Linked DNA regions of Homo sapiens. The protein of the gene in region 2 purifies or fractionates together with the protein of the main gene of each other region. This does not show direct contact. Each region holds a gene or a part of one and is shown on either strand. Other genes may lie near its edges.

What was found. Proteins that work in one complex are often made in the same cells at the same time.
Region 1: the proteins of PRP4K (region 2) and CEP170 purify together in Homo sapiens (co-immunoprecipitation; one large-scale study listed by IntAct). This does not show direct contact.

Annotation. Positions count from the first base shown.
Region 1 is NC_000001.11:243,164,445-243,168,281, reverse strand, and holds part of CEP170 (centrosomal protein of 170 kDa), read left to right. Parts: intron 1-2,165; coding exon 2,166-3,837.
Region 2 is NC_000006.12:4,034,454-4,038,629, reverse strand, and holds part of PRP4K (serine/threonine-protein kinase PRP4 homolog), read right to left. Parts: intron 1,234-4,176; coding exon 1,060-1,233; intron 1-1,059. UniProt on the Homo sapiens protein: Serine/threonine kinase involved in spliceosomal assembly as well as mitosis and signaling regulation. Connects chromatin mediated regulation of transcription and pre-mRNA splicing.

The DNA of each region.
Region 1 (3,837 bases), on a different chromosome or scaffold from region 2:
TTAAGAATTTTGTAAGTATTAGAAGTATTTGAGGAAGCTACATAGCAGTGTACTAGAAAAGCTACGTCATTTATTTATATTAGAATCTAGAAGTTATTGATAGTATGACCAAAAATTCTTTTGAGGGAACAGAGTCATTTGGTTCGTATAAACTGTGTTTAGGAAACAAAGAAACCAGACAGAAGGCTAGATAACTTTACCAAAGAATCCGTTATAAAATTATTAAGTATTATCTGTGAAAAGCAAAGTTCTACCCTTGTTATAAAAAATAATAGACCACTTAGCTTTCATGATCTCATTTCTATGTCATCATATTTAAATGAACTTATTTACATAAGCTGATAAATCTACTTAAATAATAAAACGTTTTTGTTAAGCATATTGAATGTATATGAGGAGGGGGCAGTATGAGAAATACTGGAAAAATACAAAAGGGTAAAGTAGCCATTACATTCTAGATGCTTCAGTTAGCACTAAGGAGATAAGATATATGAAAGAAGAAACAAAACAAGATATAACATGATTAATGACTAAAGTTAAATCTATCAGTTCAGTATGGATTTTCCTCCATCACATCCATTGTATTGATATGATATTTAAATACTAAACTTTTAGGATTGTAAAGAGGAAAAAAAAGACCCACAGAAGCTATATCTAGTATCTTTTCTCCATTTATCCCTAAAAGATTAGGAAGCTTTATATGTTAATTTATATTTCCCTGAAAAGATGTTTCCCTTTTCTCAGAAATACATTCCATTTTTAATAGTCAGGAAAATCCTTAAATATTCTCAAATTCTCTCAGGTGGAAAAATCAAAATATATATTTTCTCATTGGCTTCTACTTGAAAAAAAAGAAAGGGATTTTGTATTTCCATATGTGGCATTAATAACCAGAAGACTATAATTTAAAAATTCCTCAATTTATAAAATTTTGCTATGTCCTAACTATGAAAAGTCTGCTGTTACATACTTACAATTTTTAAAATTCTTTTAATCGGCTATAGATTTTTTTAAAATGTTGTTAAAAGTTCTGCATTTTTCACTTTACTTAGGAAATCCAAAATTATCATTCTTTCAAGTAGATAATACTTTTTAAAAACTAGTTATGTTGTTCTTCTCTACTATGTAGTTGAAAATATAGAAAATAAACAATGTTTATTTGACATTCTCTGTATAAATCTACAATAGATTCTGGTTTTTTGAGCAAACCTCAAGGATGGAAAGTTACAAAAGTGAGAATGAACACAGTGAACTTCCCTTCTATAAAACACATTAAGAGGAAAGAAGAGCAATATATTTAGGTTTAAGATCAGATGACCCTTTTATACCATTATGACTATAGTTAATAACAATGCCTTGGGTATTTGAAATAGCTGAAAGTAGATCTTAAATGTTCTCACCACAAAAAAGATAAGTACGTGAGGTAATGGATATATTAATTAGCTTGACTTAGCCATTCCATAATGGTATACATATATCAAAACATCATGTTATACACCACAAATATATATAATTTTTGTCAATTCATAAATAGAAAATTAAATATATGAAAGGAGAAAAATGATCAGATGACTCTAATTTTCATCTCATACAATTGGCCTTCCTGACTTCTCTAGGAATTGCTTATTTGTGCAGCTTGAAATTGTACTTAAACTACTTCGTCACAATGCTGGCTCGTTTGTTTTGTATACTTAAGTCATTTTTAACTTACATCTCAAAATGTAATGTAATATAGCTGGCCCTCTCTAGCCATAGGTTTTGTATTAGTGGGTTTTGCATCTGTGAATTCAACTGAGGATTGAAAATATTTGAGAGGGGAAAAAGAAATGATTGCGTCCCCACTGAACGTGTGTAGTCTTTATTTTTTTGTACTTATTCACTAAGCAATACAGTATAACAACTATTTACATAGCTTTTACATTGTATTAGGTATTATAAGTAATCTAGACATGATTTAAAGTATATGGGAGGGTGTGAGTAGGTTATATACAAATATTATACCACTTTATATAAGGTACTCAAGCATCCTTGGGATTTGGTATCCTGGGGGAATAAGGGGCCTGGAACCAGTCTTCATGGATACTGACAGACAACTGTATGATGCTCCTTTTATTTTTATTTTATTTGTCTTAATCAATTCCTTCTTTGTGGTTTTTATTTCATAGAGACAGAGATCAGTGAGTCTGGCATGACAGTGAGAAGTACTGGCTCTGCAACTTCCTTGGCTAGCCAGGGAGAGAGAAGGAGACGAACTCTTCCCCAGCTTCCAAATGAAGAAAAGTCTCTTGAGAGCCACAGAGCAAAGGTTGTAACACAGAGGTCAGAGATAGGAGAAAAACAAGACACAGAACTTCAGGAGAAAGAAACACCTACACAGGTATACCAGAAAGATAAACAAGATGCTGACAGACCCTTGAGTAAAATGAACAGGGCAGTAAATGGAGAGACTCTCAAAACTGGTGGAGATAATAAAACCCTACTTCACTTAGGCAGCTCTGCTCCTGGAAAAGAGAAAAGTGAAACTGATAAGGAAACTTCTTTGGTAAAGCAAACATTAGCAAAACTTCAACAACAAGAACAAAGGGAGGAGGCTCAGTGGACACCTACTAAATTGTCTTCCAAAAATGTTTCAGGTCAGACAGATAAATGTAGGGAGGAAACTTTTAAACAAGAATCACAACCTCCAGAAAAAAATTCAGGACATTCTACAAGCAAAGGAGACAGAGTGGCACAAAGTGAGAGCAAGAGAAGAAAAGCTGAGGAAATTCTGAAAAGTCAGACTCCAAAGGGAGGAGACAAGAAGGAATCCTCCAAGTCATTAGTGCGACAAGGGAGCTTCACTATAGAAAAACCCAGCCCAAACATACCCATAGAACTTATTCCCCATATAAATAAACAGACTTCCTCTACTCCTTCTTCTTTAGCATTAACATCTGCAAGTAGAATACGAGAAAGAAGTGAGTCTTTGGATCCTGATTCTAGTATGGACACAACCCTTATTCTAAAAGACACAGAAGCAGTAATGGCTTTTCTAGAAGCTAAACTACGTGAAGATAATAAAACTGATGAAGGACCAGATACTCCCAGTTATAATAGAGACAATTCTATTTCACCAGAATCTGATGTAGATACAGCTAGTACAATCAGTCTGGTTACTGGAGAAACTGAAAGAAAGTCAACCCAAAAGCGAAAGAGTTTCACTAGCCTCTATAAAGATAGGTGTTCCACAGGTTCTCCTTCCAAAGATGTTACAAAATCATCATCTTCAGGTGCTAGGGAAAAAATGGAAAAGAAAACAAAAAGTCGTTCCACAGATGTGGGTTCAAGAGCAGATGGTCGTAAATTTGTTCAGTCCAGTGGGAGAATAAGACAGCCCTCAGTAGACTTAACAGATGATGACCAAACCTCTAGTGTACCTCATTCTGCCATCTCTGATATTATGTCATCTGATCAAGAAACTTACTCTTGTAAACCTCATGGACGGACTCCACTTACCTCAGCTGATGAGCATGTACATTCCAAACTGGAAGGAAGTAAAGTAACGAAATCTAAGACTTCTCCGGTGGTATCTGGTTCATCTAGTAAATCAACCACCCTTCCAAGGCCACGACCTACCAGGACTTCCCTCTTGCGCAGAGCACGACTTGGTGAAGCTTCAGACAGTGAACTTGCTGATGCTGACAAAGCATCTGTTGCTTCTGAAGTATCCACAACAAGTTCTACATCAAAACCTCCCACAGGAAGGCGTAACATCTCTCGGATTGATTTATTGGCTCAGCCTCGTAGAACACGACTTGGCTCACTGTCAGCTCGTAGTGACTCTGAAGCAACAATTTC
Region 2 (4,176 bases):
AAAAAGTGTGATGAAATTAGGCAAAAGCGAAACATGAGTAAGCGGTAGTATTAAAAACCCTCATTGTGGCTGGGTGCAGTGGGCCAAGACGAGCGGATCATTTGGGGTCAGGAGTTCGAGACCAGCCTGACCAACATAGTGAAACTCCATCTCTATTTAGAAAAATACAAAAAAAAAAAAGCTGGGCATGGTGGCATGGGCACCTCTAGTCCCAGCTACTTGAGAGGCTGAGGCAGAATTGCTTGAACTCAGGAGGTGGAGGTTGCAGTGAGATCGCGCCATTGCACTCCAGCGTGGGCAACAGAGTGAGACTGTCAAAAAATAAAATAAAATAAAATAAAATAAAACCCCTCATTGACCAGAGTGCACTCAGACCATGCATTTCCATTTCTAGGAATACAGCATACAAAAATTCTGAGAGATATGTAAAGATGGCTATAATATAAGCCTTTGTTTCTTAAAAATTATATTCATTTATTACTTCAATTAAAAATGTTAAAAGATTGGCAAACAAATACCCATTTATGTTTTATATTAAAATATTTCATGTATGTATGAATTTTAAAAAATGATTCCCTGCTTTATAAACCACCTTTTTAACCTATTACTGACTACATATGCTTCAGATAAAATGGTTTCTATGGCAAATTAAATAGGCCTTTGCCTAAGTCTACAGTAACTATCAATATGCAAAATTAATATAAAATGTAAGAAACTGGGCTATATATTTACTACTACATGATCTACCTTGCTGGTTAAAAAAAAAAAAAAATCCCTAAGTCTGGCTCATTTAGTATTGATTGATAAAAGAGAGAAAAAAGTCCTATTTTTAAAAGACTAATTTTATTGCATCCTAAATGAGCAATGATTTGTTTAAAATTCAAAGGAAACGATATAAAAGAAAACCCATGTGTAGAGATTGCTGGTAAAAGGAAACTATGGGAACACAACTACGATTTTTCAGAGAAAACTGGTCTAAAAGAAAACCTACCAAGTGAGCTCACTGGTGGTTCAAAAACATTCAGAGTTTAATGAATCACAAGGATGAAATGTCTTTACCTTCTCCGAGGAGATCTGCTTCTTCTTCTTGGAGACCTGCTACGTCTGAGTGGGGAACGAGACCTCCTTCTAATGGGAGATCTACTTCTTCTTCGGGTTGGAGACCATCTATTGATGGGGCTGGCATCTTTTGATCTTTCACGTCTACTGAGGATATCATCTCGAGGTCGTGTTCTTAAGGGGATCAAATGCAAGTTAAAAGAAATATAAATCAAAGTAAATGATTTTTTTCTATATGCAAAGAACATCTGTAAGAAAAGGCACATTAGCCTAAAGAAAGTGAACTTTGATTAATGTGTTTTGTAACAAAACTTACTCAGGTGACTACAGTGATATTTTGGTGTTATTGCAGGCAAACAATGAAAGGTCTTATTTCCTCTGGTCCCACAGTTTGAAAAATTACTAAAGGTTATTCATACCGGTAAAGTCACTGATTCTAATTTCAAATAAACCAACTCAAATAAAACCTCCCCAAGTGAGTATAATACTCCATTTACTCAAATATTCCATTTTCATTGACGACTTTTTCTTTCTACATCCTGACATTTCTCCAATTAAGGATCTTTTTTTTTTTTTTTTTTTTTTGAGACAGGGTCTAACTCTGTCACCCAGGCTGGAGTGCAGTGGCGCAAACACGGGTCACTGCAGCCTTGACCTCCCAGGCTGAGGCAATCCTTCCACTTCAGCCCCCCTGAGCAGCTGGAACCATAAGGGCATGCCACCACACCTGACTAATATTTTGTTTTGTAGTGATGGGGGTCTCACTATGTTGCCCAGGCTGGTCTCGAACTCCTGGCCTCAAGTGGTTCTCCCTTGGCCTCCAAAAGTGCTGAGGTTACAGGTGTGACCCACCATGCCCGGGCAAAAATCTTCTTTTTAATGTCAAGTATAATAGGCCAGGCACAATGGTTTACACTTGCAATCCCAGCACTTTCAGAGGCTGAGGGAGGACCGCCTGAGCCCATGAGGTTGAGGCTGCAGTGGCTGTGTTTGTGCCACTGCAGCCCAAGTGACAGAGTGAGAACTTGTCTCAAAAAAACAAAAACAATAGCTAGGTGTGGTGGCTCACACTTGTAATCCCAGCACTGTGGGAAGCTGAGGCAGATGGATCACTTAAGCTCATGAGTTTGAGACCAGCCTGGGTAACATGGCGAAACCCTATCTCTACAAAAAATATCAAAATTAGCCAAGTGTGGTGGCATGTGCCTATAGTCCCAACTAATAGGGAGGCTCAAGTGGGAGGATTGTGTAAGCCTGGGAGGCAGAGGTTGCAGTGAGCAGAGATCATGCCACTGCACTCCAGCCTGGGTGACAGAGTGTGACCCTGCCTCCAGTCTCCCCAGAAAAACCCCACAAAAACCCAACTTTTCAACACTTATCACACAAGTACCTTTCAGTGAGTTTTACTCTTGTTTAATGTGATATTTGTATTACAACAGGCCTTTCTACAGCTTAATTTTTTAAAACAGGTTTTGAACATTTCTTAATGTTATTCCAGGTTTGGTCACAACTATTCAATCTGAACAGTCAGATTGTAAATAGGTTTGTCTCCATAATCAAATAATATTACAGTATTTTCCTCATTTATTATTATTATTATTTTTTGAGATGGAGTTTTGCTCTTGTTGCACAGGCTGTAGTGCAATGGTGTGACCTCGGCTCACTGCAACCTCTGTCTCCCGGCTTCAAGAGATTCTCCCGCCTCAGCCTTGAGTAGCTGGGATTACAGGCATGAGCAACCACGTCCAGCTAATTTTATATTTTTAGTAGAGACAGGATTTCTCCATGTCGGTCAAGCTAGTCTCGAACTCCTGACCTCAGGTGATCCACCCGTCTCAGCCTCCCCAAAGTGCTGGAACACAGGCGTGAGCCACTGCAACTTGCCTTCCTCATTTAATAAAAACCTAAAAACACAACCTGCCTTGCATGTTTCAGCACGGTATACAGAACCCAAGAATCCTTCTCTGATCCAGCCAAAATGAGCAAGGTAGACTTTGATTCAGATCTGTAGTGCTTACTTCTTGGTAGTGCTTACTTCTTGATAGGGCCATCTGAGGAAACTCTTTTATTTAATCTGCTCACATACACGCACAGCCTCAAAAGACCAGTTAAAAAATATAAATGGGCTGGGTGCGGTGGCTCACGCCTGTAATCCCAACACTTTGGGAGGCCAAGGCAGGCAGATAACCTGAGGTCAAGAGTTCGAGACCAGCCTGGCCAACGTGGGGAAACCTCATCTCTGCTAAAAATATCAAAAAAAAAAAAAAAAAAAAAAAAAAAAAAAAATTAGCCGGGCGTGGTGGCGCACACCTGTAGTCCCAGCTACTCGGGGAAGCTGAGGCAGGAGAATTGCTTGAACCCAGGAGGCAGAGGTTGCAGTGAGCCAAGATCACACCACTGCACTCCAGCCTGGGCGACAGAGCGAGACTCCATCTCAAAAAAACAAAACAAAACAAAACAAAAACAACACACATATATGTGTATATATATGTATATATAAATGGATGGGATAAAGTAAACTAGTATAAAAAGAACAGAGTGTTGTCTGCTAAAATGCAATGAAAATAAACAGTGGCTCAGGCCTGTAATCCCAACACTTTGGGAGGCCGAGGTGGGCGGATCACGAGGTCAGAAGTTCAAGACCAGCCTGGCCAACATGGTGAAACCCTGTCTCTACTAAAAATACAAAAATTAGCTGGGCATGGTGGTGCGTGTCTGTAATCCCAGCTACTTGGGAGGCTGAGGCAGGAGAATCGCTTGAACCCAGGAGGCAGAGGTTGCAGTGAGCCGAGACCACGCCACTGCACTCCAGCCTGGCAACAGAGCAAGACCCCATCTCAAAAAATAAAATAAAATAAAATAAATAAATAAAAATAAAGAAAATAAAAATGTTCACCCTCACTAGTCACCTAAGAAATTTCGATTAAAACAATTTTTGGGTTTTTTGTTCTGTTTTTAAGAGTGACAAAATACTATATGGTATCCTGGTAATAAAGGTTTTCCTAAACTTTCCTAATACAGTTTCAGGAAAAGGGGCAGTTCACATAGTCATAGAAGTAGAAGTAGAAATTGACCTAACTTTCCTGGATGGAAATTTAGCAATAACTTTCTACAATG